Linked DNA regions of Homo sapiens. The protein of the gene in region 2 purifies or fractionates together with the protein of the main gene of each other region. This does not show direct contact. Each region holds a gene or a part of one and is shown on either strand. Other genes may lie near its edges. The genes, in order: GJA1, USP9X, LATS2 and WWP1.

What was found.
Region 1: the proteins of USP9X (region 2) and GJA1 purify together in Homo sapiens (affinity purification with western blotting; 2 studies listed by BioGRID, with this or other methods). This does not show direct contact.
Region 3: the proteins of USP9X (region 2) and LATS2 purify together in Homo sapiens (affinity purification with mass spectrometry; 4 studies listed by BioGRID and IntAct, with this or other methods). This does not show direct contact.
Region 4: the proteins of USP9X (region 2) and WWP1 purify together in Homo sapiens (affinity purification with western blotting; 2 studies listed by BioGRID and IntAct, with this or other methods). This does not show direct contact.

Annotation. Positions count from the first base shown.
Region 1 is NC_000006.12:121,430,903-121,438,645, reverse strand, and holds the start of GJA1 (gap junction alpha-1 protein), read right to left. Parts: upstream 3,001-7,743; 5' UTR 2,814-3,000; intron 1-2,813. UniProt on the Homo sapiens protein: Gap junction protein that acts as a regulator of bladder capacity. A gap junction consists of a cluster of closely packed pairs of transmembrane channels, the connexons, through which materials of low MW diffuse from one cell to a neighboring cell.
Region 2 is NC_000023.11:41,214,442-41,221,475, reverse strand, and holds part of USP9X (ubiquitin carboxyl-terminal hydrolase 9X), read right to left. Parts: intron 6,909-7,034; coding exon 6,767-6,908; intron 5,578-6,766; coding exon 4,824-5,577; intron 4,257-4,823; coding exon 4,133-4,256; intron 3,105-4,132; coding exon 2,879-3,104; intron 2,375-2,878; coding exon 2,245-2,374; intron 1-2,244.
Region 3 is NC_000013.11:20,974,553-20,981,586, forward strand, and holds part of LATS2 (serine/threonine-protein kinase LATS2), read right to left. Parts: coding exon 6,914-7,034; intron 5,246-6,913; coding exon 5,139-5,245; intron 813-5,138; coding exon 318-812; 3' UTR 1-317. UniProt on the Homo sapiens protein: Negative regulator of YAP1 in the Hippo signaling pathway that plays a pivotal role in organ size control and tumor suppression by restricting proliferation and promoting apoptosis.
Region 4 is NC_000008.11:86,345,537-86,352,570, reverse strand, and holds part of WWP1 (NEDD4-like E3 ubiquitin-protein ligase WWP1), read right to left. Parts: intron 1-7,034. UniProt on the Homo sapiens protein: E3 ubiquitin-protein ligase which accepts ubiquitin from an E2 ubiquitin-conjugating enzyme in the form of a thioester and then directly transfers the ubiquitin to targeted substrates.

The DNA.
Region 1 (7,743 bases), on a different chromosome or scaffold from region 2:
CTGAGAATCCTGAAGATAAGTCAGAACAACAGGAAAGGCGGAGTGGAAGGTATTAATCACTGGTGACTGTCCTATCATTCCCTTCCCTGCGGGTATCATATATAAAGGCTCAAACCAAGCTACACCCCTGGATGTAGAGAAAAGAAAAGAAAGAATGCACCCCGTGTTTTCCCTCCTTCTCTATGCAGGAATTGGAAACATCTAAGTAACAAAGCAACCTTCAGTATCTGAAAGCACAGCCTTTTATCTGCCTCCTGCGGAGCATCTTTGCAACCATGTTTCCCAAGGAGGGTGACAGCATTGTTGGTATCACAGTCGCCAAGGGTGAGGAACTCAGTGGCTGGGTTGAGAACCCTCAGAAGGCATTAGAAAAATGTGGAACATGTTTAAACAGTGAAGAAAGTAGGAGCAAAGCACTAACACTGCATTTTCCCAGGTAACCAGTCTACCCTGACTTTGGGAAGTACAAAGCACCCCCACACTGGGGGAACAATGTTCTAATAATATAGAATCAACATCGCCAGGACGGAATGGAATGTACTGCCTTTGCTTGGTATAATTTCCAGTCAATTCGGCCTACCCAGAAGTAATTAGTCTTCTCCCAAAAGTGTTTTCTGTCTAACTGGCTTATTTCATTCCTGGCGCGGGGGGGAGGGGAGCGCTCGCTTAATGAAATCTCTGCATTACTAGACGCTTTAATTTCCAGTTATCCTTGCACAAAAGTAAACATTAGGCTTCCTCACAGGGACACTTTTCACCGAGTTCAAATGCGCCCGATTTTCGGAGGGCGATATTCAGTATCTTTCTTGTCGTTACTAACTGGGTCGAGGAAGCAAAAGAAATTCAACCGTCTTCCAAATAAAGCCACGCTTCTTTTTACAACATTGTGTAGCTCTCCCCTTCCCACCCCTACTTTGTACCTGGAGAGAAAGAGAAGCACGCCTTTTGGGAGCAAGGAGAGCTTATCGATGAGCGTTATCAGAAACCCCCAGCAAAGGCTGGCTGGGTCACTAAAGGGGCAGGGTGGGCGCAGCGCTGCTACGACCGTGAGGCGCGCGTCTCGGAAACAGGCTGACTTGCCCCGGACGCGTCATCAGCTTCCCGAGGGTCTCTCCTCCCTGCCCTTTCCCCTTGAGCCGCCCCGCCTCATTCTCGGGAAGTTTCAGGAACTTCCAGGGGAGTTGCAAGTGCAATTTAAGCACAATTCCCAAGGTATTCAGGTTTTCTTACCAACGCGGAGATAGTGGGATTCAGCAAGTTTAAGAGGAAAAAAGAAAAAGAAAAAAAAAAAGGGCTGGTGTGAGAGGGATGGGAAATTAGATTGACAACTTTAATTAAATCAACCATTTGTTCTACCATTTGGCACCCAGCCCATCTCTCCTCCTATCCCTCCCACCCCGCACCCCGGGTTCCTTTGCAGTGACGAACTCGGACCTGAGTTCGATTTGACTTGTGAGGATTTGGGGGAAACGTCCCAAGACCGAGCTGGTTCGGGCAGCGAAGGCGCGGGAAGGATCCCGGCAGACGCTAAGATGGCAGGAGGCGCCCCGCGCCCGTCCGGCCCACGGCCTCCGCAAAGCTTTCATTTTTATTTGCTTTTCAGCATTCACTGGTGCAAATACTTCCACTGCAGGGTCACGTCAAGAATCTAAACTAATTATTTTAGTTTGTAGATTTACACAGAACAGAAAATCTTTACCGGGCACAAAAATGCATGGCTGCATTTCTGATGAACAGAATGGGTGTTACCAATAAAAGTATTTTAAAAATTGAACCCTTTTAAACAACGCATTAGCGTTATCTTTGCCCTAGGAGCTCCAACTCCAAAGAACTGCCCCAGAGTTCTGAATTCTGTTACAGGTTCGAGCAGAGGGAAGGTGCGGGGCGGCGGGTGTTGGCGGGGGGAGCTCCCAAAGCGCTGTTTAAGAAAGTTTTTTTCCTGCTCTTTCTAGGAGCTCCCGTTTTAGGAGACGGTTTTGGAAAAGTACCCTGGCATACACTCTTTTTTAAACGTCTGATCTCTAATGCTCTGTAACTAGCCACCACCCATTCAAGAGATTTCATCTCCTAAACTGCCAACGTGGTCGAGTAAAAGCTGTCTCTCCTGAGGGTCTCAAATCTTTCCATAGCGGTTGCTAACACAAAGTAACAATTTACTGTTGATTTTTAAAGCATAATATTAATACTCTTGAATTTTATACCTTTTTGTTTAATGGGGAAAATTCTAGGAAGGAACCACGTGGAAGTCAAGTAACCACGATGTTTTAACAAAGCACTTCGTCACAAAAGAAGTTGGCTTTGCAAAGCTATAGAACATCAATCAAGATTTCCATATGAAAAAAGCACTTTATTCTATGAAGTGTAGAATACTATAGGAAGCACGCTAAGCAAATTTGCACTTTGATTTTTCCGATGTAGTCAGTCAAATCCCCCAACCCAGGCGCCTAACCGCCCCCCCCCCACCCAACAAATGATAGCACCTAGACTATTACTGATTACAAAAAAAAAACAAAATAAAATGATACTCTAAAATGAAAAACCAAACATCCAGTAAACTAATCCTTTATTCTAATCGGAAAGGTTTGAACCTTTTCACCTGTTGCAATGTTAATAGAAACTTTTTTAACAGTCAAAATATATATTTGGTACAATAAATTTTAACTTTAAAACTATAGAAACACTTTCAAATCCATCAATCCATTTACAGTATCATAATTCAAAATTACATTTAACACATTTTAAAACTTTAGAAAAGTTTTACTTGTAGAAAAAGAAACTAATAGGTAACGTGTTCTCATTTTTTAAAAACTTACTCTTTTGCTTAAAAGTAGTGAAGTCACGCCAAGTGATTGAACTCCTTGGAGGATGAAGTAAAATGAAAAGGCAAGTTCAGGCACTCAGACCTGTCTATTTAAAGTTTAAAACTCCGCTGCTGTTTGGTACTTTCCTCACGCCTTCCCCCTAATGAAAGAAAAGTGCTGATACCTCGTAAAAGCTTTTTTGTAACTTGGAGCACAGAGCTTTTAAAAGTTTCAAGCCACTGACTCAACTGGGAGGAGGGGCTAGAAGAAAGGGGAGGGCAAAGGGAAAGGCTGGGAGGAGGTAGGGAGGAGGCTGGTAAATGTGGAAGGGCTGGGGGGAGAAGAGGCAAAGAGCAGCAGTGGGATCAGGATAAAGTTGTAGTTTAAATTTGCTGATGAGGAAAAATAAAAAAGCATTAGGGACATGAACGCCTCTACTTGGAGTTGCTCCTCACACATAAGAATCATTGATTACACTGCTTGCTTCACCAGAAGACCAGGGATAATGGGGGAAAAAGGTGTATATTTTTATTACAACATTGTCTAAAATTTTTAAAGTAGCTTACAATAAATAAAAATGGTGGGGAAGCATATAACCAGTTCAAGCTTGTTTCACATTGACCAAGGTGTGTGAAGTTAGAGGTAGGTGTGAGTGACCTGTTTGATGATCTAATTCCCTTCCTTTAAATGTAAGCAAGGACAATTAACAAAGGGAATGGTGGAGATGGGAGAGAGATTTCAAAAATTGACATAGATGAAGAAAAGTCCATACCCAATCCATCTTTCAACCCCTTGACTGCTTTGAATTTTTACTTTCTTTCAGTTTAGCAAAAGGCTGTGTGTGTATATACATTTTTTACATATATAGCATGTTTTGTTTGCCTATGAAATCTTGATATCTGACCTCTACCATGTCTCCAGAAAACTAAGAATTTATATTAAGGCCCTATTTATGCCAAGACACTAAAACCCAAATCTGTAGTGAAATGTGAGGATTTTAAAAATACAGACTATGGTTGCATTAAGTAGGTTCCCAAACTATTCAGCCCTCCTTAAAATCAGTTCCCCCTCTCAAGCCCACTAGAGAGTTTTCTGCCCAACGACAGTAAAGCTGAGCATATCATCTTTATGTGCTTCCCTATCCCCTTCCAAATGCTCTCCCTCTTCAGGGCTCTGCATTAGGGTTTATAATGGCCTGAGTCATGTGGCCTCAATCTTAGAGCAGGCAGCTCCTCTGAGGGCTTCCCAAATGCCATAACACAGTGTTGTGGTAGGACAATTCCTCATAAACAGGCTTCAGTGATGCTCCTGAGGTTGGACAGGAAATTTCTTGGCCAGTATTCTCTGGAGGGAAAGCAAACTCATCTGGCCTTCCTATTCCTAACACTTTTCTCACTCAGGCAAATACCAGAAAAAAGAAGGATGCCAAATATATTCTGGTAGACACCGTTCCCTAATTAAACTTTCACTGAAATGACTAATATAACATCTTTTGAAATGTTGCAGGTTTTTTTTTTTCTTTTCTGAGACGGAGTTTCGCTCTTGTTGCCCAAACTAGAGTGCAGTGGCGCCATCTCTGCTCACCGCAACCTCCGCCTTCCGGCTTCAAGTGATTCTCCTGCCTCAGCCTCCTGGGTGGCTGGGATTACAGGCCTCCGCCTCCCAAAGTGCTGGGATCACAGGCGTGAGCCGCCGCGCTGGGCCCAAATGTTGCAATTTTAAGGAACAATTTTGCTTTTACTTGTTGGCTATCCTATTTCCAAGAGTACATTTTTCTTTAAATTAAGAAAGGGGAAAAACAATCTTCTGGAAGTAGAAATTGTAACCTGACTTTCGAGTCTTCAGGTTCAGCAACCTATAAATGTTGTTTTGGTCTTGTATTTATATTGTTCTTTAAATAAATCTATTGTTTTGTCTTAACTAAAAATTATTTCATTGGACTTAGAACATATTCATGAAAATGATTTATTCTTTTTATCGTAAGAAAATACATGTCTTCTTTTCAAAAAAGTATGCTTCATTTAATTTACATAACAATTTATTTTTGTAAAATTATTTATCAACTACAATTATAAAAAACATTACCATGATGCTAATTCAGAATAAGTTACATGAAAGAAAAGTTGTCATTGACTGTTTTATAATAGGATTTTTAAAGCAAAAAAAATTGTGTTTATTTCTGTTATGTTTTGTTAGGTCTATAGATGAATGTTGATGTTTAAATATTCTTGTAAAGTATTCTTTTCTTTTTAATCTATTACCTATGTGACCAATTGGAAATAGAGCTAAAGAACTTCCTTATAACAAGTTAAATTATTCATGGATATCACTTGAACTATTTTCTGAGCCAAAGGAATTACTCATAGCATGAGCCAGTAATTAGTTACTTCTCTTAATACATGAACGTACTATGTCTTTTCTTTCTAAAATCATTTTTCCATGATCATTGATACAAGATCTCAACATGATTTCATGAAAATATCATTGATAAGACATTCTGAAGAAGCTTCTCTTCTTTTGGGATAATGGCACTGAAATGCAATGCTATGAGTAATCATGTGCAAGACAAACTAGGTTTTGCAAAAGGCCCCACAGTTTTCTCTCATGGACAACTAACAGGGTCTCTAAATGACAGGTAGCAACTTCTATTATAACTCATACTCTAGCAGTGTTGGTGAGTTATATTTTTATCAATAGCAAAATTGTTCAAAAGTATCTCACTTATCTGACCTTAGAAGCTTGTCTCCATTGGAATGTTTTGCAAAAATTGTGGAATAGTTTTTTTTTTTTAAATGTGTTTTTCTCATATTCTCAGAAATGTCAATGCCATTTCTTTAATATAAACACTGACTTCCTAGAACTGTGTCTTCTCTGATTGCCAGACCTTGTCTATGTAGAAGAAATGGATGCAGCCTGATTAACACTGCTCTTTGGAGAACTAGAAACAGTTATTTACAGTTTCTGTCTTCTGCAGGGCTTCTTTAGGCCAAATGACCTGCCAGGCCTTTGATTCTGTTTTCTCCATGTAGCTATATATATTTTGCAAAATGCACATTGTTGGCACAATGGAGGGTAAGTTTTTTTCAGAATTGTGAGAAATATTTCTTAATATGAGAACCACCTCCTTTTTTGGATTTTTACCTTTGTTTCAAAATAGGAATTTCTGAAATTTTAAGAAATGAATGGAGTGATTTTTAAGGCCTTTAAATGCCTATCCCACATAAACTCTGATGGATTACTTTCACCTCATTGAGTAGCATAAACGTTAAATAATTGGTGGCTCCGGATTAGACTTGTAAGAAGAGTATTGTAATGGGAGAGCAGTAAGCTATAGGAACTTGAAAGGCAATACTAGCAGAAAGAAAGGAAAGGAAGGTAGAATTACCAGAACTTGATGATGGATGAATGGGAAGACAAGGAAGAGGAGGCTGTGGAAACCGATTTTTGGAGTTTTGATTGGGAAAATGTTACTAACACAAAAAAAGGAAGCTCGGGGAGGGACTGACCTGCTGAAAGAGATACAAAGATTTGTTTGAAATATTTTGGTATGAAGAACTGAAATATCTAGGTAAAGACCGATGACTGACAATTTAAAACAGGAGCTGTGGCGTTCACTTTAAAATTGTTACAGCGGGGCACAGTGGCTCATGCTTGTAATCCCAGCACTTTGGGTGGCCAAGGCGGGCAGATCACCTGAGGTCAGGTGTTCGAGACCAGCCTGACCAACATGGAGAAATCCCGTCTCTACTAAAAATACAAAAATTAGCTGGGCGTGGTGGCACACACCTGTAGTCCCAGCCTCCCGGGAGGCTGAGGCACGAGAGTTGCCTGAACCTGAAAGGTGGAGGTTGCAGTGAGCCAAGATAACACCAATGCACTACAACTGGGCAACAGAGTGAGACTCAGTCTCAAAAAAAAAAAAAATTGTTATAAGATTTGTGATTGGGAAGACACAGTGGTTCAACTCTGTAATCCCAGCACTTGGGAGGCTGAGGTGGGATGACAACTTGAACCCAAGAGTTCAAGACCACCCTGGGCAACATAGGGAGACCCTGTGTCTACAACAAATAAAAAGGTTATTTAGACATAGTGGCAGGCCTCTGTAGTCCCAACTACTCAGGAGGCTGAGGTGAGAGGATCTGAAAAAAAAAAGAAAGAAAAAAAAAAGATTTGTAATTAGAAGCCACAGGTACAGATGAAATTACTAAGAGATGGGATATAGGCAGTGTACCAAAAAGCACACACACAGCCTTGGTGGATTTCCTCATTTAATGCAGACAAAAAGAATGAAAAAAGAGGCAAGGTAACATCTGGGAAAGGGAAAGGTATTTAAAATAGCTACAAGTGGGCTTATTTGTGGGAAAATATTACTTGTGCACTGGAGGAGTAGTTAACTTTGAAAGGACAGCTACTCCGTTAAAAAGAGAATGAGTGCAACATAAAGAAAATGTTTTCAGACAGTATAGGCCGCATGAAACTAGGGTTTGAAGGTATTTTCTCAAAGTAGCTAAGGTTATCAGCTGGCTGAGATGAAAGTAAGTGAAGAAGAATCAGAAAATTTGCAATCCCTCTGGGGCAATTCAAGGCATTTGTAGAAGAATAGAAAGACTATCTGAGACTAGGCGGGTGTAGGTTGATTTTGTAATGAGATAAGATGGCATTATCTTACAGATTTCCTTTCCTTCGCATCAGAATAATCCTTTCTATGCACCAAATTTCCATTTTAACTAACGTTTACCAGACAGCAAGAAAGAAGTAAAAGTTAATTTGGAAGTCATAAGTTTGCAAGTTTAGAAGTGCTCTACCCAAATTGGTAAAACTTGCCAGAAAATGTGTTCTTTATGTGACTGTTGGTCAATTACATCTTTCAGAGCAGTGAAGATTTCTCATCGTATTACCACTTGTGCTGGTATCCCTTTTTCAAAAGATAAGTTTCTGGGGT
Region 2 (7,034 bases):
AATCCCTTCAGGTACCATGCCCCCCGTGATGCACTTTGCATTTTCCCTATTATAGCTATTAACATATTTTATGGCAACTACATTATTTGCTTCTATATCCCATTAGACAATCTTATTTATTGCCATATTCCCAAAAACATAATAAAAACAGGTCCACAACCTCTTATCTGAAATCCTAAGATTCCAAAAGCTATTTTAATTTTTAATTTTTTTTAAGATGGAGTCTCGCTTTGTCTCCCAGGCTGGAGTGCAGTGGTGTGATCTCAGCTCACTGCAACCTCCGCCTTCTGGGTTCAAGCGATTCTTCTGCCTCAGCCTCCTGAGTAGCTGGGATTACACGCATGTGCCACCACGCCCGGCTAATTTTTGTATATTTAGTAGAGACGGGGTTTCACCATGTTGGTCAGGCTGGTCTTGAACTCCTGACCTTGTGATCTGCCTGCCTCGGCCTCCCAAAGTGCTGGGATTACAGACGTGAGCCACCGCGCCTGGCCCAAAAGCTATTATTATAACAAGTTTTTTTTTTTTTTTTGAGACGGAGTCTTGCCCTGTTGCCCAGGCTGGAGTGCAGTGGCGCGATCTTGGCTCATTGCAACCTCTGCCTCCCAGATTCAAGCCTCAGCCTCCCGAATAGCTGGGACTACAGATGCCCGCCACCACGCCCTGCTAATTTTTGTATTTTTAAGTAGAGATGGGGTTTCGCCATGTTTGCCAGGCTGGTCTTGAACTCCATACCTCAGGTGATCCGCCTGCCTCGGCCTCCCAAAGTGCTGGGATTACAGGCATGAGCCACCTCGCCCAGCCCAACAAAGTTTTTCATTAAGTTGCTGTCAAAATGTGGTTGGTGGGATAACCTAGCCCAAACTGACTAAAGGCTACTTATAGTCTTTATTTCTCCCTTCAGTATAAATATTCATATTTTACTGTAGAAATATTAATGTGTTCAATTGTAAGTTGTTGTCTCAGACCCTGCTATAGAGATGTTGGTATATGCACTGCCTTGCTTTTCTTAAATCCAAACAATTCTCAATCCCAATGCATATCTGATCTTAAGGACTTCATATTAAGGTTTACAGGCCCTACAGTATTTGTTTTCAGCAGGAAAATTTTACAAGTAGGTTACATTATGGAACAATGATGTGTGCTTTGTGAACAGGCAATATCTAAAAGAGTTGAACAGAATAGGATTCTTCTGAATGTCTAAATTTGGCATTTTTAAGTTTGAAATACAGATTCCACTTATGCTTGTCTGTGTAATAAATATTCTCTTTCTCATCTACAAATACCCAAATATCTGCAATTACGGAAAAGACAAGGGAAAAGAAGACAAACTAAATAGACAAATGAAAAGTACAATCTCCCTTATGTTAAAAGGGCCATGGATCCAATGGTGATTAAGTAAGATCACAGAAAAAAAACCTGAAACGACAGGTACGCCTGGATATAGAACTTCATTTTGGATATATGACTTTTTGGTTTGTTTGCTTTTTGGAGACAGGGTCTCATTCTGTTGCCCAGGCTGGAGTGCAGTGGTGCAATCACGGGTCACTGCAGCCTCAACCTCCTTAGCTCAAGTGATTCTCCCACCTCAGCCTCCCAAGTAGCTAGGACTACAGGCATATGCCACTACATCCAGCTAATTTTAAAATTTTATTTTGTAGAGATAGGGTCTCCCTATGGTGCCTAGGTTAGTCTCCTGGGCTCAAGCAATCCTCTTGCCTTGGCCTCCCAAAGTGCTGGGAGTACAGGCATAAGCCATTGTGCCCGGCCCCTAAATTAATATTTTAAGCGAGTATTTATATTATCCATAATTGTAGTTTACTTAAACAAAAACTTATGTACAGACCAAGTCTGCTATCTAAATTTGGTGAGTATCACAACCATTTGGGGACCCCTTTGAAAACATGGATTCCCTGACATTAGCTTTGGGGATGCTGATTCAATCAGTGTGAGAAGAGGCCTAGAAACCAGTATTTTCCAAAAGCAGCCAGATTTGGCACCACTGCATTAGGAGATTAAAAAAAAAAAAAAATCAAAACACAGATTCTGACCTGTGTCTACCACAAAGACACATGCATAAACAAAGTAAAAGGTGAAAGTGCCATGTTCAGATAAAATTCACAACAGGTTTTATGGGAAATTGTTTCTACTTCAGATCAGATTATATTTCATCACTTGACCTAAATGACTTCACAATTTAATATGATACATCAAAACAGAATTCTGAAAAACTTAAATTCTTACCTAAATTGGCATACATTACAAACAGGTTGAAATACTGCTGTAAATGACGCCCATGCTCTGAAACTTCCCTTCTCAAGAGATTTAGTACTGCTCTTAGTAAGTGATCACTCAAGCTTAAGTTGTCATAAGCCTGTAAAGGATAAAACATTACCTGTTTTACAGCAACAAGGTATATGTATACTTCTACTTGCATAAAAAGGACATGCACATATGCTGATACAGGCATACATTTATGGAAGGACTGATCACACAAACTAAACTATTTTGCTTCTTGGGAAAGGGAATGAAGATCAGAGGCGGATTTCATTATAATTTTTTACACTTGTAATTTTTTAAAAAAATCTAAGACTATTTAAAAAACCTTCAAAATAGGAAAAAATCTACTTAACAGTAAACTTATAATTAAGCTACTGCATGTAACCGAACAGAGAAAATTCTCTTACATTTTTAAAGAGCCAATAATTACTATTCATTGCCATGCAGTAATATTAAATGGAACTCACTGACATCATATTGTGTGTTTCTGTTAGGTAAACATATCAAGTGGATGCACATATGCTTGTGACTTCGACTTCCAGGAAACACAATTTATTTGTAAACATCTCATCATTTAGAAAGAAAGCTGTGCAATTACCTGACTAGAAGGTCCAGGAGAGGCAAAAGGTGAAGGACATGGCCCATCTTGCAAGGAAAAATGTGCAATAAAGACTATAAGTTTTGCAAACGCACCCCTCACTTCTGCACTAGGGCACTCCAGAAGGTATTCGGAGAAGCGATTTGAAACATTAAAAAGGACGTTATGAGCAAACCAAAAACGTACATTCTTGCTGTGACGAAGGAGAATACACAATGCATCATACCTAAAATAAAACAAAAAAACCTATGACTATTAAGTCAATAACTTGTTCTCTATAGTAAAAGGATGAGTCTCATTGAACCAAAAAAAAAAGACAAAGATCTTCCTCTACTGCTGGAGAGAACCAGCAAAGGTTGCTTCTAATATTAAAACAATAGATAAATACTATGACTTGGTCTATTCTCTCAGAGTTACCAAACAGGTGAAAGCTTGTCCTCTAAAAATCCATTAACAAACTCTTCCTAGATTCAATGACAAAATACCACCCCCTTATCTTGACATATTCCTGAAATGAGTAAGTAAAAATTATTAAATCAATGTATCATAATGGCCTCTATACTTTCACAATTAGAAACTTAAGAAAACCATTTTAATTTTTTACCCTTTTAATCGGTGTCAGAATTCAATCTAGGTAAGCTAAAACCTAATAAATTTCATAAGTAGCTTACACTTTTCAGTCTCATCTTGTAATCTTTGGTTTTGTTTGAGACAGGGTCTTGCTCTGCTGCCCAGGCTGGAGTGCAGTGGCACAGTCATGGCTCACTGCAGCTTCAACCTCCCAGGCTCCAGCGATCCTCCCACCTCAGCCTTCCGAGTAGCTGGGATTACAGGTGTGCGCCACCATACTTGGGTAATTTTTAAAATCTTCTTTGAAGAGATGGGGGTCTCACTATGTTGCCTAGGCTGGTCCTGAACTCCCGAGCTCAAGCAATCCTCCCACCCTGGCTTCCCAAAGTGCTGGCATTACAGGTGTGAGTCACTGTCCCCCAGTCTCAGCTTGTAGTCTTTGGTGCAGGGATGTCAAAGATATGATACAAGGTAATAGAAGCAGAAGTCAGCTTCTGAATAACAAAAGGCCATGTTTAGACTAAGTAACTATTTTAATATGATTTCTCTATTGTGACCCAGAGTTTTTATTCTATATTCCAAACTTCAAACAAAATTCTCTTGGTTTAGAAAAACATAAAGCAATCTATTAAAGAAGCAAACCAAACATTAGTATAATAGGAATGAAAATCCAAAGCAATGTACCAATCACTGGCAGAGCCACGGACTACTTTCTTTGTGTGAAATCCTGTAGTAAAGAGGAACCTAGCAGCAAGTTGAATACTGATCATAGTGATTTCTTCTGCTTCAGGCAACAGGTGATCTTGCCCTATAAATAAAATGCAGATATAAAAACACATTTTTATTTTCCAACCCCATTTTCAAACAAGTCTGTGTTTCCATTAATTTTGAGAAGTCCTAAATTTGTTAAGAACCCTTCTCAGGCTACTTTAATTTAGACCCATTTATTTTTTTATTTTATTTTTTTGAGATGGAGACTCACTGTCACCCAGGCTGGAGTGCAGTGGCCATCAATTTGGGTCACTGCAACCTCCACCTCCCAGGTTCAAGCGATTCTCCTGCCTCAGCCTCCGGAGTAGCTGGGACTACAGGGAGTAGCTGGGACTACAGGTGCATGCCACCATGCCTGGCTAATTTTTATATTTTTAGTAGAGATGGGGTTTCACCATGTTGGTCAGGCTGGTATTGAACTCTTGACCTCAGGTGATCCACCTACCTCGGCCTCCCAAAGTGCTGGGATTACAGGCGTGAACCACCACACCCAGCAAATTAGACTCATTTAAAGTGAAAACATTAATTTTATGAACTTAAACATGTTGACGCCTACTATAAATTATTCTTTATTACTAAGAAGCTAAACTCTCTTGATACTCACCGGGAGGAGGGTTTAAGTAAACGCCATTACATGTAAGCAGTTTTTTCATAAACTGAAAATACTCCATACTGTACTGCATTCGGTTATGCATGAATTGTACGTTCTGTTTCCGTACACTTCTCTCAATGGCTGATGGCATAATAATCTGATGAGGTCTGGTGGTGATAGCAAGCTCTGATATATATCTTATCAACTCATCATCTTGGTCTATTGTGTCCATTCGTTCATAAAAAAGTATATAAGCATTCCACCACCTTTTCTGGCGCCTGTATGACATACGCTTCATCATGTGATCAAACACTTCTCCCATGTACTCTCCACCAAAACACTGGTTTTTCATTTCTTCGTCATCATCCATTTTACATTCTGTTACATCACCATCATCAAATTTATACCAGCGATTTCTCTCACCATCTCCACCATTCCTTTGGATGATGTAAGAATAATAATGCCCCCCACTCGCTTGACCACTGTGTACGAGCACACCCACAAGTCTGTATTTTGTGCTTCCTGCTGTCTCACTTTCAGACTGCTCACTCTGTTGTATCAACTGACTCTCTGGGTTTACATTATCCCCTTCCAGCTTTGCGACACCTGCAACTGTGTAAGGTTCCATGTCCAGCTCTCGAGGAAATTCAAAATAATCATTGAACTTGATTGCACATTCTCTTTCCCAGTCATAGTCAAATCGCTTTAGTTGTATAGCAAGAACAGGAGGTAATTTTTTAATCAGCAAGCGCTTTACGGTATCAACCTAAAATAAACAAGACAAAGTTACCAGATGTTCTATTAAAATCCACAGGAAAAAAAAAAAAACCCCAAGCAAACTTTTAAATGATATTAAGACTTATCTGAATTTTTAAGTATAAACAAATACATGACAATGAGCATAATCAAGATAATCCTATCAGCTGATTTAAATGCTGAAATTAATAATATGCAAATGGTAAATTGTTGACTGGTTTCTGTCATTGTTATCTAGCCATTATTACCTGTTTGATGTTTACTGTTGTTCCCACGAAGGTGGTTTCCTATGCACAAACCAAAGAACTACAATAACAATAAGAGTAGCTAATATTTGTTGGGTAATTCAGATGCCAGGTAATATATACTAAGTGCCGCACAAGTAAAAACATACCGAATCCTTACAACCTTCTCAAGTGTGTACTACTGAACCTTAAAAGATGAAAACTAGTAATCACAGAGAGGTCAAGTAACTTGCCTCAGGTCTCAGGAGCTGCAGGTGGCAGGCAGTATGGCTTTACAGCCCACAATCTCAATCTTTAAACTTCAGGACTTCTCTAAGTGGTGCATAAGGCCAAAACAACACAAGTGACTTGAGGGTGAAAGGGTTTGGGAGCTCCCAAAGATACACCTTATTCATTACTATAATGCGTGTGAATCATCTCTCTCAAAGAACTGCTAATAAGTTTCCAAAATAAATGGTTTTATAACATAGGTGATAAAAGAAATCTTATGGGCCACTTGACTAGTCTAAAAGAAATCTTATGTGGTTCAATAAAGTAATTAATGGTTTCAGCAAATGTTTTGGTCTTGACAAGTAATCCTGGACATGACAGGAGAAATGTTTTCCTCTATCAGCTCTGTATCTTTGAGGGGTTCAATGGCAATTTGTTTCTCGGTAGAGATGGAAAGTGTCTGTGTAACTTATATAAGAGAATGTGCTATCACGTTATGACTTTTAAAATTATTCACTCTTATTTACCTATTTTTATCTTATTTACCTAGCCCCTTTGGCACTACTTTTTTTCCTTCCTTGCCAAACCTTCTATTAGTTATCATATTGACTACTTCTCTGCTACCACTATACCAAAGTAGGAGAAAATAAAAATAGGGTGACTTGTGAGGATGAACCAAAAAAACCAATTTCTTCTAAATCCATTAAATGTAATCAAAATTAAACAAAACTGGACAGCCCGTACCTTTTTATTGCATTTTTCACAATGATATGCATTTGCACCTTCTAGTAAATCTCCTTTGACATACTGTTCCAAAGAATCAAGAAGATTTTGGTGATTTCTAATGTCTACGTTTAGGGTCGTAAAAGATTCTTCACATTCGTACCTAAAAACGATTTAAAAAAAGGATTTATCCCTTAGTTTTGTAAACATTTTAGTTATGGACTTAATGTAAACTACATTTGCCTTTTTTTTTTAAATTATACTTTAAGTTCTAGGGTACATGTCCACA
Region 3 (7,034 bases), on a different chromosome or scaffold from region 2:
CAAAGTTAATCCCTATAATTTAGTAAGAAAAAATGGATATAAACAAAATAAGTGCTCTTTCTAAACTGTACTAAATTTTCAAAAATATTGTTTTAATGCAGTGAAGGTCCTGAAAAGCCTATTGAAAGCGATGCTGAGTCCTGTTTTCAAAAGTGTCCTGTTTGGGTTTTCTTGGTGAAGAGCAGAATTTCAAGTGAAGTAATCGACGGACTAATTTAAAACAAAACAGCCCTCGGCTTCCCTATTGGCCTGTGAGGGCACCGGCTCCGGGACCCTGACCTGGGAGGCAGCGAGTGGTGGGGGTGCCTGGCCCCCATCTACACGTACACAGGCTGGCAGCCTTCAGTCTGATCCACCAGATCAGAGCTTTCTAAATCTGAGCTCTCAGCCTGTGAAGCTTCTGCTCCTGAAGGCTTTGGGCATCGAAAGGGGTAGCCATTGTCATCAAAGAACCTTCGGAAGGTGAATTCGTAAAATGCGTGCTCAGGATGCTTGTTATTGGGCGAGGTGAGTGTGTCCCAGGCCTTGGTGCTACCTTCGCTGGCATCGTTCCAAGGGCTTTCTTCATCTACGGGGTCGAAATTCGAGGTGTCCATGGGGTGGCTGATGGTGGGAACGTAGGGGGCTGGCTGCTTCCGGATGTCACTGGAGAAGTCAATGGCGCTGAAGAAGGGGTGGGCCTTCAGGTCATCGGCCCCATTCCGCCCCAGGCGGTGGTCTGCGGAGCAGCACAGCTTGGTGATGAGGTCCCTGGCCTCAGGGCTCAGCTTCACCTGGGCTGGAATGTGGAGCGTGTTCTCCCAGTTGATCACCTGAGGAAACAACAGAGCCAACAGGTTAGTTTCTCCTCACATCTTGGGCAGTTCTGGGACAGCGTGTGATGACGTGACTTTCAAATATGTTTAGTTTCACAATAGGAGAGGAGTTAGAATAGACACAAGCAGCAGTTGTTGATCTCAGCAGCCACAAAAAGTCAGTGTCATTTCAGTCGATGGCTCACAGCCTGAGGCCAGGATGACCAGTCAAATACAGACAAAAAGATACTGATTTTCTTCTATCAGAAATACTGTTTAGCCAAAGAATTTTGTGCTTTCCACAAAAATGAAGAGAATGATGGTCTACAAGTTCTTTCTTTCTTTTTATTTTTTTGAGATGGAGTCTCGCTGTGTTGCCCAGGTTGGAGTGCAGTGGTGCGATCTTGGCTCACTGCAACCTCCGCCTCCTGGGTTCAAGCGATTCTCCTGCCTCAGCCTCCCGAGTAGCTGGGATTACAGGCGCCTGCCACCACACCCGGCTGATTTTTGTATTTTTAGTAGAGACAGGGTTTCACCACGTTGGCCAGGCTAGTCCTGAACTCCTGACCTCAGGTGATCAGCTAAAGTTATTTCTTTAGCTATGGCAATGGCTTTCTGCAAACCATCATGACGCTCATTCAAATACTTATTGCGGTCAAAAAACGGCCAACTGGGGTTTTGAAAAACAAACAGGAAAAACTTCATAGGGAAGAATAAAGCTGACTGACCCCATGTGACCTTACATGCTCAACTGCACAAACCAGCCATCTGGACGTTCAGTAAATGCACTTGTTGTAGAGATGTGTCTACTGTGAAGACAAAACCTAGGGGACTTCTTTATTGTTTACACTTAGAATCAGGAGGAAACAAGGCCAACATGACTGGCTACCAGCTGGGGTGATGGGACAGCGGATAAGGCATGGAAGTTAGTGGGTGTGTGGGTGGTAGGCTTGGTTTGAACCTAAGTAGTTGTTTTCATAGAGCTAAAACTGTAGAGCTCCTAGAAGAAAACATAGGGTGAAATCTTCATGAACCTGAGTTTGGCAATGATTTCTTAGACATGCCACCAAAAGCACAGGGAATAAAAGAAAAAATAAATTGGACTGCATAAAAATTTAAAACTTTTGTGCATCGAAGGACATTACTGATAGCAAAAAGGCAACAAAATGGGAGAACAGATTTCAAAACATGTATTTGAAAAGGGGTTAGTACCCAGAGAAAATACAGAACTCCTACAACTCAACAACAATAACAAAACCAAATAAGTTGATTTAAAAAGGGTAATGGACTTGAGGAGATATTTCCAAAGATATACAAATGACCAATAAGGACATGAAAATAAGCTCAATATAATTAAACACTAGGGAAATACAACTCAAAACCACAATGAGATACCACCTTACATCCCCTAGGGTGGCTACTACTTAAAAAAAACAAAAACAGGAAAATACTTATTGAGGATGTAGGGAAACTGAACACTCAGTCACTGTTGGTGGGAATGTAAAATGGTGCAGCCACTATGGCAAACAGTTTGGGAGTTCCTCAAAAAGTTAAACACAGAACGACCATATAATCCAGTGGGATATAAACCCACTTTCTGGTTTATATCCAAAAGAACCGGAAGCAGGGACTCATACAGTGGAATTATTATTCCACCTTAAAAAGGAAGCTACAACAATGGATGAACCCTGAGGACATTACGCTAAGTGAAATAAACTAGACACAAAAAGACAGATACTGCATGACTCCACTTACAAGAAGTCCCGAGGCCAGGCACAGTGGCTCACACCTATAATCCCAACATTTTGGGAGGCTGAGGTGGGTGGATAACTTGAGGTCAGGAGTTTGAAACCAGCCTGACCAACATGATGAAGCCACATCTCTACTAAAAATACAAAAATTAGCTGGTGTTGTGGCAGGCACCTGTAATCCCAGCTGCTTGGGAGGCTGAGGCATGAGAACCCGGAAGGCAGAGGTTGCAATGAGCCAAGATTGTGCCACTGCACTGCAGCCTGGGATACAGAGCAAAACCCTGTCTCAAAAAAAAAAAAAAAAAAGTCCTAAGCATAACCAAACTCACAGAGACAGGAAGCAGAAGAGAGGCGAGCAGGTGCTGAAAAGGAGAGTGGGGAGTTTCTGTTTAATGGGTTTGGGACGATTAACACATTTGAAAATAGAGGGTGGTGATGGTTGCACAATATTGTGAATGTACTTAATGTCACTGAATTATACACTAAAATAATTAAAAATGGTAAATAATTAAAATAATTATTAAATAAATGGTAATTAAAATAATTAAGATGGTAAATTTTAATTTACCATTAAAATAATTAGATGGTAAATTTTAATTTACCATTAAAATAATTAGATGGTAAATTTTAATTTACCATTAAAATAATTAGATGGTAAATTTTATGTTATGTATATTTTACCAGAATAAAAAAATCTGAATTATCATGTGGGCAATTTAGTGAGTAGCTCAGCCATTCAATTAGGGCGCAGATAATGCCAGATTCCAATTTTACTGTTCCTAGAGTGAAACTAAGCCTTACTTTAGGGTTTTTCGATTTCTCTTTTTTCTTTTTTTGAAACAGAGTCTCGCTCTGTCATCCAGGTTGGAGTGCAGTGGCGTGATCTCGGCTCACTGCAACCTCTGCCTCCTGGGTTCAAGCGATTCTCCTGCCTCAGCCTCCCAAGTAGCTGAGACTACAGGCGCCCGCCCCCATGCCAGGCTAATTTTTTGTATTTTCAGTAGAGACGGGGTTTCACTACGTTGGCCAGGCTAGTCTCGATCTCCTGACCTCGTAATCTGCCCGCCTCCGCCTCCCAAAGTGCTGGGATGACAGGCATGATCCACCACGCCCAACCTTACTAGACAGATTTTCTAATTAAAGTTATTAATTTAGGCTCCCTGGCCTAATAACCACATGCCCTGGTGGCTCACATGACCACCAGGGCATGTGAAAATTCCAAGGACTGTGTGTCAGTTGGTATGTCCACAGAAGACTGCAGATTCTTAATTTCAATTCTCAGTTCAACCCTTAGTAACTCATTTCAGAAAGCAAATGGCTGTCATTTTAAAACTAATAATTTAGTATTAAATGACTGACAATTATTTAACTACTTTGAATGAATATTAGGAATATGCACAACTAGCCTGACCACATAGCTGACAGTTTGCGAACAATGATATAATATCCAAATAAAGAAACTGCTTTCTTTAGATACAGTTGACCCTTGAACAACACAGTTTGAGGGTCACTTACACTAGCATTTTCTTCCACCTTTGCCATCCCTGAGACAGCAAGGCCAATGCCTCCCCTTCCTCAGCCCACTCCACATGAAGATGACAAAGATGGAGACCTTTATGATGATCCACTTTCAATTATTAAAATAGTAAACCTATTTTCTCTTCTTTATGATTTTTTTTCTTTAGACAGAGTCTCACTCTGTCACCCAGGCTGGACTGCAGTGGTGTGATCTCGGCTCACTGCATCCTCTGCTTCCTGGGTTCAAGTGGTTCTCCTGCCTCAGCCTCCTGAGTAGCTGGGATTACAGGTGCACACCACCATGATGGACTAATATTTTGTATTTTCAGTAGAGACGGGTTTCGCCATGTTGCCCAGGCTGGTCTTGAACTCCTGACCTCAGGTAATCTGCCCACCTTGGCCTTCCAAAGTGGTGGGATTATAGGCATGAGCCACTGCGCCCAGCCTATGATCCTCCCAAAGTAGTGGGATTACAGGCATGAGCCACTGCGCCTGGCCAGCATTTTCTGTTCTCTAGCTTGCTTTATTGTAAGAATACAGGATCTAATACATATAAAATACAAAATATGTGTTCATTGACGCTATGTTACTGGTAAGGCTTCCAGTCAACAGGCTATTAGTAAAGTTTTTGGGGAGTTGAAAGTTATGCAGATTTTTGACTGTGCAGGGGGTTTGGCACCCCAAACCCCTCATTGCTGAGGGGTGAACTATAGTTCCTGGAGTTCCGTGTGTTCTCTGCAGGGCAGGTGTGGGTGGGGGAGACAGTGGATCAGCAGCACACCTTTGCTGATCCTCACTGTTCTTGCCTGGAAATAGCAAGGTGGCAGATGGCCAAGGGTTTAATAGAATTTCAGATATTAAAATGGGTCCAATTCCATGGCTTTGCTTATCAAAATAGAAAATTTAAAAATAGATAATTTAAAAAATAATGAGATTATTTTTAAAAATCCCATCCTATACAACTGCCATTCCTACCCTACTCAGAATAAGAGGGCAAATGCTGACCAAAGATTCATGGGTACATGAGCAAATCAGATGTCTACAGCAAGCAGATGCGTGGTTCCTCTCACATTACCTTCAGCTGGGTTTCTGTGGGAGTAGGTGCCAAAAAGGGCGGCTGCCCCACCAGCATCTCGAAGAGAATCACTCCAACACTCCACCAGTCACAGAGTTGAGTGTACCCTGCAAGACAAAGTTCACTCAATCCCTACACAGGCATGAATTCTCCTCCGAGGTGAATTTCATTAAGATGCTGAACATACAGATTTCCTGTTAAGTGGGAAAGCGCGTTGAAGCATCGCACTGTGCGCAAGATGGACCTATGTAAGTACCTGGATACTACTGGGTGGGGTGGTGGGGGGCGGTGGCCATGGCCGCTTAGGTTTTTGTATTTTTAATCATTGTAATAAGAAAATACTTTTTAATTTAAAAAGATTATTTTTATTGTTAGCAAATAGTTACTAGCCAGAATTTTATGTTCTTAAAGATCACAAACAGAGGCACCAATTAAAATAACAGAACTGAAAAACATAAAGTGCTATAACCTGTGAATAGTCAGGTGAGGGTCAAGGGAGGCTTCTAAGTCAGTTTTGGATGAAGCTGAAGAATACGGAGATGAGGAGGAGGTGGGCAAAACCCACCGGACAATTCACTGTAAGCCAAACACTCCTTGTGTGAGGCCCCTACGGAGCCGGGCCTTCCTCACGGGGCTCCCAGCTGTGCTGGGTCAGGGCTGGCCTCTGGGAGGCTGTAGGCTAGGCTCGTTTACCTCTTATTTTCTCCCACTTTTCCTTCAGAGCCTCATGACCCATCAAGCCAGGATCGTCTTCATGTCACCTAATCCTTGCTAAGTATAAACTGGGATGTTAAGAGGTCAGTCTGCGGGTGCCTGCAGCTGCATATGCCAGGGTAGCCCCCTCAGGCCCCTCTGCTATCTCTCCGTCCCACCTCTTCCTGTCCAAGTTTGGCAACAGAGGCTGCAGAAAAACCCCAAGCAATGGTTTCTTGAGAATGCTGCACGTGGTAGAGGGAAGTAGACCTTCACTGGGCACCAAGGTTATTCACAACCTCTCAAGGTCGTTATTGCTATGTCTGTGGTCTGAGTAGTTAAGTAACTTGTGCTGGATTACCACAGCTAGCAAAGAAAACCCAGACTTGAACTGAGTCTGGCTGGCTCCAAAGGACTTTAAACAACATGTGATGGCAGGGGCTGCCTGTCTCTGGATTAATTACACCCCATTGTCACTGTGGACCATGCAGGATCACTGAAGGATTCCTCCTATACTGAACCAGATGTTGCATTTGACAGAATGAAGCATCCATCCAGGAGGCAAATGTTATGAGCACTAGTCATTTTACACAACTGGCACCTGCCACTTTTGCTTATGGTCTAGCAGGGAGAATGAGAGAAAAAGGATCTTCCAACGCTGTCACATAAGCACCCAGCTGCACACGGCACAACTCAGCCAGGAGCCTGAGACAGAAGTTAAAGCTAGAGCCCGGAAATGTGTGGTCTGGGCAGACTGAGCAGAGGTCCTGTGGCCCTCAGAGTGGTTTCCATCATCTGACTGTGAAAATCAGGGCTGGAGTCATTCCCTTGGGTCTAGGTAGAGCCCGAGGGCCAGCAGACACTGGTCTAATGGTGCATGTCTTCCAACCCCCTGAAGCAAGAGCACTTCCAGGACAGGAGGGAGGCTTGTATGTTGCAGAAATTAGTAGCTTTCAGGCTTCTATGAGGACAAAAATATGACTGGAAGCATTAGGTCCTTGGAAAGCTAGAGCCAGCGAGACTCAGCTCACGTCTGAAGGGAAGGAGACCTCCTGCGGGGTGGCTGGCCATGGCGCATGTACCTTTGCGGAGGAGCACCTCGGGTGCGATGTAGTTTGGAGTCCCCACCAGTGAATGTGCCAGGCACCTCTGGTGCTGCTTCCGCGCCCTCTGCTCTAGGGTCTTCAGCCTGTCCCCACACCG
Region 4 (7,034 bases), on a different chromosome or scaffold from region 2:
AAATAAGGTAAGACCCCCATCTCTAAGAAAAATAAAAAATTAGGCAGGGCACGGTGGCTCATGGCTATAATCCATCCCAGAACTTTGGGAGGCCAAGACGGGTGAATCACTTGAGGCCAGGAGTTCGAGACCAGCCTGGCCAACATGGTAAAATCCCGTCTCTACTAAAAATACAAAAATTGGCTGGGCCTGGTGGCATGCACCTGTAATCCCAGCTACTCGGTAGGATGAGGCACAAGAATCATTTGAAACTGGGAGGGAGAGGTTGCAGTGAGCCGAGATAGCGCCACTGCACTCCAACCTGGGTGACAGTAAGACTCTGTCTTAAAATAAATAAATAAATAAATAAAAATAAAAAATTAGCTAGGTGTCGCGGCACACACCTGTACTCCCAACTACTAGGGAGGCTAAGGTGGGAGGATCGTTTGAGCCCAGGAGGTTGGTTAAGGTTGCAGTGAGCCATGATCTTGCCACTGCACTCTAGCCTTGGGTGACAGAACAAGACCTTTTCTCAAAAAAAAAAAAAAAAAAGGAATATTTTAGCTAGCTAGCTAGAAAAATGAACTCTGACAGAGCACACTAGGACCCCAAATAACCAATTCAGTTTCTACCAACAGTTCTCAAACTAATGTGCATAAAATCTCTTGAGATATTTGCAAAAAATGAAGATCCCTAAGCTCCACTCTCAAGGACCATATCAGAGATCTCAAAGGATACTCAAGAATCAACATGTTTAATAAGCATCCCAGACGACTGTTATATAAGGATTGCGCTTTGACAAACACTGGTCAATACAATATTTCATCTAATGATGGTGTTAATGATTTCTTGTTCCCAGGCTGCACAGCAAAACCATCACTAGCTGATATATTGCCAGCCATGTTAAGTCAGTATCCCAGATTTCGTGCTTACCCTTTTAGCAACTTTTTTTTTGTTTATTTGGCCAGGCCTGGTGGCTCATGCCTGTAAATCCCAGCACTATGGGAGGTCGAGGTAGGGGGGATCACTTGAGCCCAGGAATTCAAGACCAGCCTGGGCAACATCTCTACTAAAAAAAAAAAAAAACTAGCTGAGCATGTTAGTGCGTAACTGTAGTCCCAGCTACTTGTGGGGCTGAGGTGGGAGGATTGCTTGAGCCCCCGAGGTCAAGCCTGCTATGAACCATGATCACACTATTGCTCTCTAGCCTGGGAGACAGAGCTGTCGGAGACCCTGTCTCAAAAAAAAGCTGGGGGTGGAAATTTGATAAGGAGCTCTGCCCATGCCAAAACGAAGCTAGAACTGTCTTTGAGAAATGAGTAGCTCACAGCAAAGTGAATACTTGTTTGAATTTTCAACTTCATAATACTGAATTACGAGCAATAAACATGATTTAAGGGCTTACGTTCTAGCCACCATGCTTTCTGCTTTATAAACATTATTTCAATTAATCCTTACAAAAATCCATTAAGGATGGTATTCTTTACATTTTACAAAAGAAGAAACTGAGGCAATCCTGCCATTAAGCAATACTACCAGAAGTCAGGTCTGCCTGACTTTAAACTGTGACTCTTAACCTGTATGCCAAAAGTGCCTCTACCGTTAAAAACTTAAAAAGAGAAGAACAATCTAGTTTGTTTACTTCTAAGGTAAAGAATATCCTACTTTATACAAAACAGGTTCATTTAACTAATTCTCCTCCCCAGTCTAACTAAACACAGACAAAAAGTAGGACATCTTGGCAAGTTGGGGCTAATGTGTAACCACAGTATCCTAATTTCAAGTCAGGACTCAACAGTCAGCTTCCACCCAGCCCAGTCAATCAGATTTATGAGTATACTGAACAGCTATCAAAAGAACTTGTTTTCCTTGTTTCCTAAAAGGCTATCATACCTACATTCTGTTAATGCTAGGATATTTTTTAACTACCCAAATAATTTAGGGTAGGGAGGACAGCCATCAAGAAGCACCTTCATGTAACTCTATCCGTGCCCTTCTTTGTGCCCTGGCCTTTCCTATTTCTATAAATCATGTTTCTCAGTACATCCAATTACCAAACTCCTCCCCGCAACAGCCAATGTACTATTTTCAGAAATTTGCAAAGAGATTTGCATTAGGATGCAGGGGCCCGTTTTTTAGTGTACATGAAATGCTTCAAAAATGCTTCGCAGCTATGCACTAATAACCTAAATTCTTAAAATGAAATGCATTCACTACTCCACTCAGAAGCTATAATGTAATAAAAACTAAACACTCATTTTCTTCATTTCACCTTTAACCATGGCATTACTTAGCAGCCAACTTGAACTAAAAACAAACAAACAAAAAATACTGCTAAGACTAAAATAAAGCGATAGTGGATAAGGTTAAGTGATAATGCGAGAAAAACCCAGATAGCAATCAATGAATCTACCTGTTCTTGGAAAGGAGAAGCAGCACCTTATTCATTGTATTTCCATAAGAGAGGATTACCATTCCAGTCTCTAGAAGGAAAGAGAATTCTCTCCACTATAATGACACCTCTCCAAGGAAGAGTAGCTTATCCCAAGCTTTTTCAAGACACTGCAAACAGAAAATGCCATTGGGGCTTGGAGCGCGTGGGGGACAGGTTGCTCACTCTGGTCAAGGCCAGAGTGATAGTCAAGAAACCCTTCTCCCCTAGGTCTCAAATCCAATCACAAGGGCAGAGGGAATCGATCTCTGCCCATCTGTGGCCCATTTTCTGCATGGGATGCTGTCTGTTCCAATTCACGAGATCGGGTAAATCACTACTTCCAAGCAGCATGGACTCTTGGGTCCTGTACTTTGTTAGATCCCACTGCCCTCAAGCAGAAGGCAAGTCAATCCTACCCTATTATGGTGGCACACTAGGAAAAACCTCAGAGGCCACAAATGTTCTCCTCTTTTCTAACCAAGGAGAGTGCTAGGTATTCCCATTTGCGTAGTAAGCCAGATGTGCTGTCATTTGCACTTTTTAGACTCAGCTTTCCCTGTGGCATGCTCAGACTCAAAATCCAGATTTGCGGAAAGTAGTAAGCTGCCTAAGCTTCAGCTTCCAAAACAGTTTTCCGTAAGTCCTGTTTTGGTATAGTAAAGCTGATGTTATACTTAAATAAAATTTATGGTAATCTGTTACATGGGTGGCCCCAAATGGATTCACACATTTGTACCCTTGAACCTGGGCTAGATTTGTGACTTGCTTTAACCAGTATAATAAGGCAGAAATGATACTGTATCCCTTACAAGTCTAAACCTTAAGAAGATCTGGTTGCAGACCAGGCACGGTGGCTCACGCCTGTAATCCCAGCACTCTGGGAGGCCGAGGCGGACAGATCACCTGAGCTCAGGAGTTCCAGACTAGCCTGTCCAACATGGTGAAACCCCATCTCTACTAATACAAAAATTAGCTGGGCATGGTGGTGCACGCCTGTAATCCCAGCTACTCGGGAAGCTGAGGCAGGAGAATTGCTTGAACCTGGGAGGTGGAGGTTGCAGTGAGCCAAGACTGAGCCACTGCACTCCAGCCTGGGTGACAGAGTGAGACTCCCTCTCAAAAAAAAAGATCTGGTTGCTTCTGTTTTGTACTCTTGTGAGCCCTAAGCCATCAGCTACCAGGTAAGGCCAGCAACTCTGCTGGAAAGGCTACTTGGAGAGAAAAGCAGCCATTAGAGTGATCACCAGCAAAACCTGCCCAACTGAGCCCAACCCAGGAAAGCAAAACTGTAACAAAGAAAATGGTTGTTTTAAGTCACTTGGTTTAGGGCTGTTTGCTACACAGCAGTACATAACTGAAACAACACTCACCTGGTTCCTTGTGTGTTCTGCATAATTTGTTCAAACCCCAGAAAAAGGAGAGGTATAATTAATTACACTCCGCAAAATTACAACCTGAGAAGATAAAGTTCTATGCCCTTGTTAATGTTAGTGATTCCACTAAACTCCAGGTTCCAAGAGGAAAGGCTTCATATCTGTCATCTCAACACTGTACTCCCAGCACCTAGAAATATGTCTGGCACATAGTAGGTACGCCAGTATGTGCTGTGAGTGAACTGTAGATTTAAGAAATGTCAAGACGGCCAGGCGTGGTGGCTCATGCCTGTAATCCCAATACTTTGGGAGGCTGAGGCGGGCAGATCACCTGTGGTCTGGAGTTCAAGACCAGCCTGACCAACATGGAGAAACCCCGTCTCTACTAAAAATACAAAATTAGCCAGGTGTGGTGGTGCATGCCTGCAATCCCAACTACTTGGGAGGCTGAGGCAGGAGAATCTCTTGAACCCAGGAGGCGGAAGCTGCAGTGAGCCAAGATTGCGCCATTGCACTCCAGCCTGGGCAGCAAGAGGGAAACTCCGTCTCAAAAAAAAAAAGAAAAAAGAAATGTCAAGACTAAATCAACAAATGCTACTCTTCCTTATAACTTAAAAACCATGCTAGTCTTCCTTATAACTTAAAAACCATCTGACGTATGGTTTTACATTATACATTCCCTAAAAAAGTTGTTTAAATGTATGAATTGAAGCATCCACTAAGGAGGGCTTTTTAATATCTTTGGGTTTTTTTCAATGGTAGAGCTTATGATCTAATACAAAAATAATAAAATATCATGATACAGGTTGAGTATCCCTAATCCAAATATCCAAAATCTGAAATACTCCAGTGAATGTTTCTGTTGAGTAATGTAGGTGGCTCAAAGTTTCCCATTTTGGAGCATTTCAAACTTTGAATTAGGGATACCCAATCTATATATATTTTGGAAATTAGATCCTCATTTATATCCTCAAAAAATGTAAATTTTTGAAGACTAAGCTTTTATAAAAGGGAAACACAAACTTCATCTGTAAAAGCAACAGAATTAAATTCAAAATTTTCAAAAAAATAAATATCTACATTTCACCAATGTACTTTTCCAGATAAGAAATCAACTTTTGCTTTATCCTTGACAGGAGAATAACTATTCTGTGGTACAATGCTTACAAATTTAAATATCACCTACCAATAGCCACTGCAGTGAGATTACCATTTTAACACAAAGGAAAAAACTGACAAGTTTACCTCTACACGGTACAAAAGTTTAACACATTCCAAACAGGTAAATTCAAATCCTTCACATACAGCTCTTAACTAATGATGTTCCATTGTACATGAAGAGTAAGAAGTCTGGTGGGAAAAGAATACTGACATAGGAACAAAAATAAGGGTTTTAGTTGTAGTTCTAATTGTGGCCACTAACTAGCCACATACTTTGGAAATTTAACTTTTTAAACTTTTTTTTTAGCCTCAGCATATTCATCCAAAAAGCAATGATTGGCTGGAAGCGATGGCTCACGCCTGTAATTCCAGCACTTTGGAAGGCCATGGTGGGAGGGCCACGAGTCCAGGAGTTCGAGGCCAGCCTGAGGAAACACAGCAAGACCCCATCTCTATAAAAAATTTTAAAAATTTAGCTGGGTGTCATGACATACACCTGTAGTCCCAAGTACTTGGGAGGCTGAGGTCTAGGCTTCAGTTTAGCCATGACTGTGCCACTGAACTCCAGCCTGGGCAACAGAGCAAGACCCTGTCTCAAAAATAAATAAATAAAATAAAATAAAATAAAATATAAAGCAGTTATTACTTCCTAACACACCAACTTATCAGTTGTCATGAGAACCAAATGATAAATATAGTTATTATTTACAAATGTGAAATGCTATACTAACATAAGGTATAGTACAATTCTTAATGCCAGCAAAAACAATAAAATTCATCTGTGTATGTTTTTATCATTTTTCCTCCATTAAGTATTAGTAACTAGTTCCTTGGATACCACTATAAAGGGCAATTTATTGGATTTTCCAATGCTCATTATAATTGTATCATATTTTTATACAAAGAGTAAAAAACAACAGTCTTTCTAATAATTATGAAATCAAAGTTTATTAACATGTAATAACATGCTATGATTACCTATTACCAGGGAGATAATCTTACAGGTGCAGAAAAGTCAACTGTTTACCAATCGCACTACACTTTAACCGTACTAGCTAGCTACTTAATCCACCCAAAAAAAATTGAGTAGGAATCTTCATTTACATTGTGAAGTCTCCATTTTTATTTGATAAAGGCTTCCTGAAAGAAAAGAATATTCTGAAGGTATAAATGAACAGAGAAGATAAAGTTCTTTTTTTTTGAGACAGAGTCTCGCTCTGTTGCCCAGGCTGGAGTGTAGTGGCGCAATCTCGGCTCACTACAAGCTCCGCCTCCCGGGTTCACACCATCCTCCTGCCTCAGCCTCCCAATAAAGTTCTTAAAGTTTCTTATTTCACTTACATCACCTCTCTCCTCCCTACTCCCCAGCCCAAAGTGAGACATACAAAGAAAGTAACAATCCAAATGAATGATCTGATATTGCTAACTGCTCTTCTCTACCCAATTCATCCCTCAGACTCACCAGCTCTCATGCACATATTAAACAAGGAGAGTAGATACTCTGATGAAAGTCTAGGACTCGAGAATCACAAAATGTTAAAAACTAGAAGGAATCTTGTGGGATCATCTAGTCTTACTGACAAGGTCATTTAAAGGCAGTAACTATATTTAATTGATGGTAAAGCCACTGCATTATCTTCATACATGAAAGAACACCATCATTGTCAACAATCTCCTGATTCCACTTTACCCACCAGCTGAATGATGCTTCAGGCAAATCATTTAAACTCCAGGAATAGTTTATTGTGTAATATAATAGCAAATAACATTAGTCAAAATTCTCTGTAAACTGTAAACCACAACACAAATGTAATATTGTGTTTCTGTATATATACAGCATATCTCTACAGTAAGAGTTCTTATCAGTACACAGAAGAACCTGAAGGTTCTACTGTTTTAAAAAGCTCCCAGTAGGCCCGGCAGGGTGGCTTACGCTGTAATCCCAGCACTTAGGAAGGCCAAGGCAAGCTGATCACTTGAGCTCAGGAGTTCAACACGAGCCTGGGCAAAATAGTGAGACCCCATCTCTAAAAAAAAAATACAAAAATTAGCCGGGTGTGGTGGCAAGCGCCTGTAGTTCAAGCTAT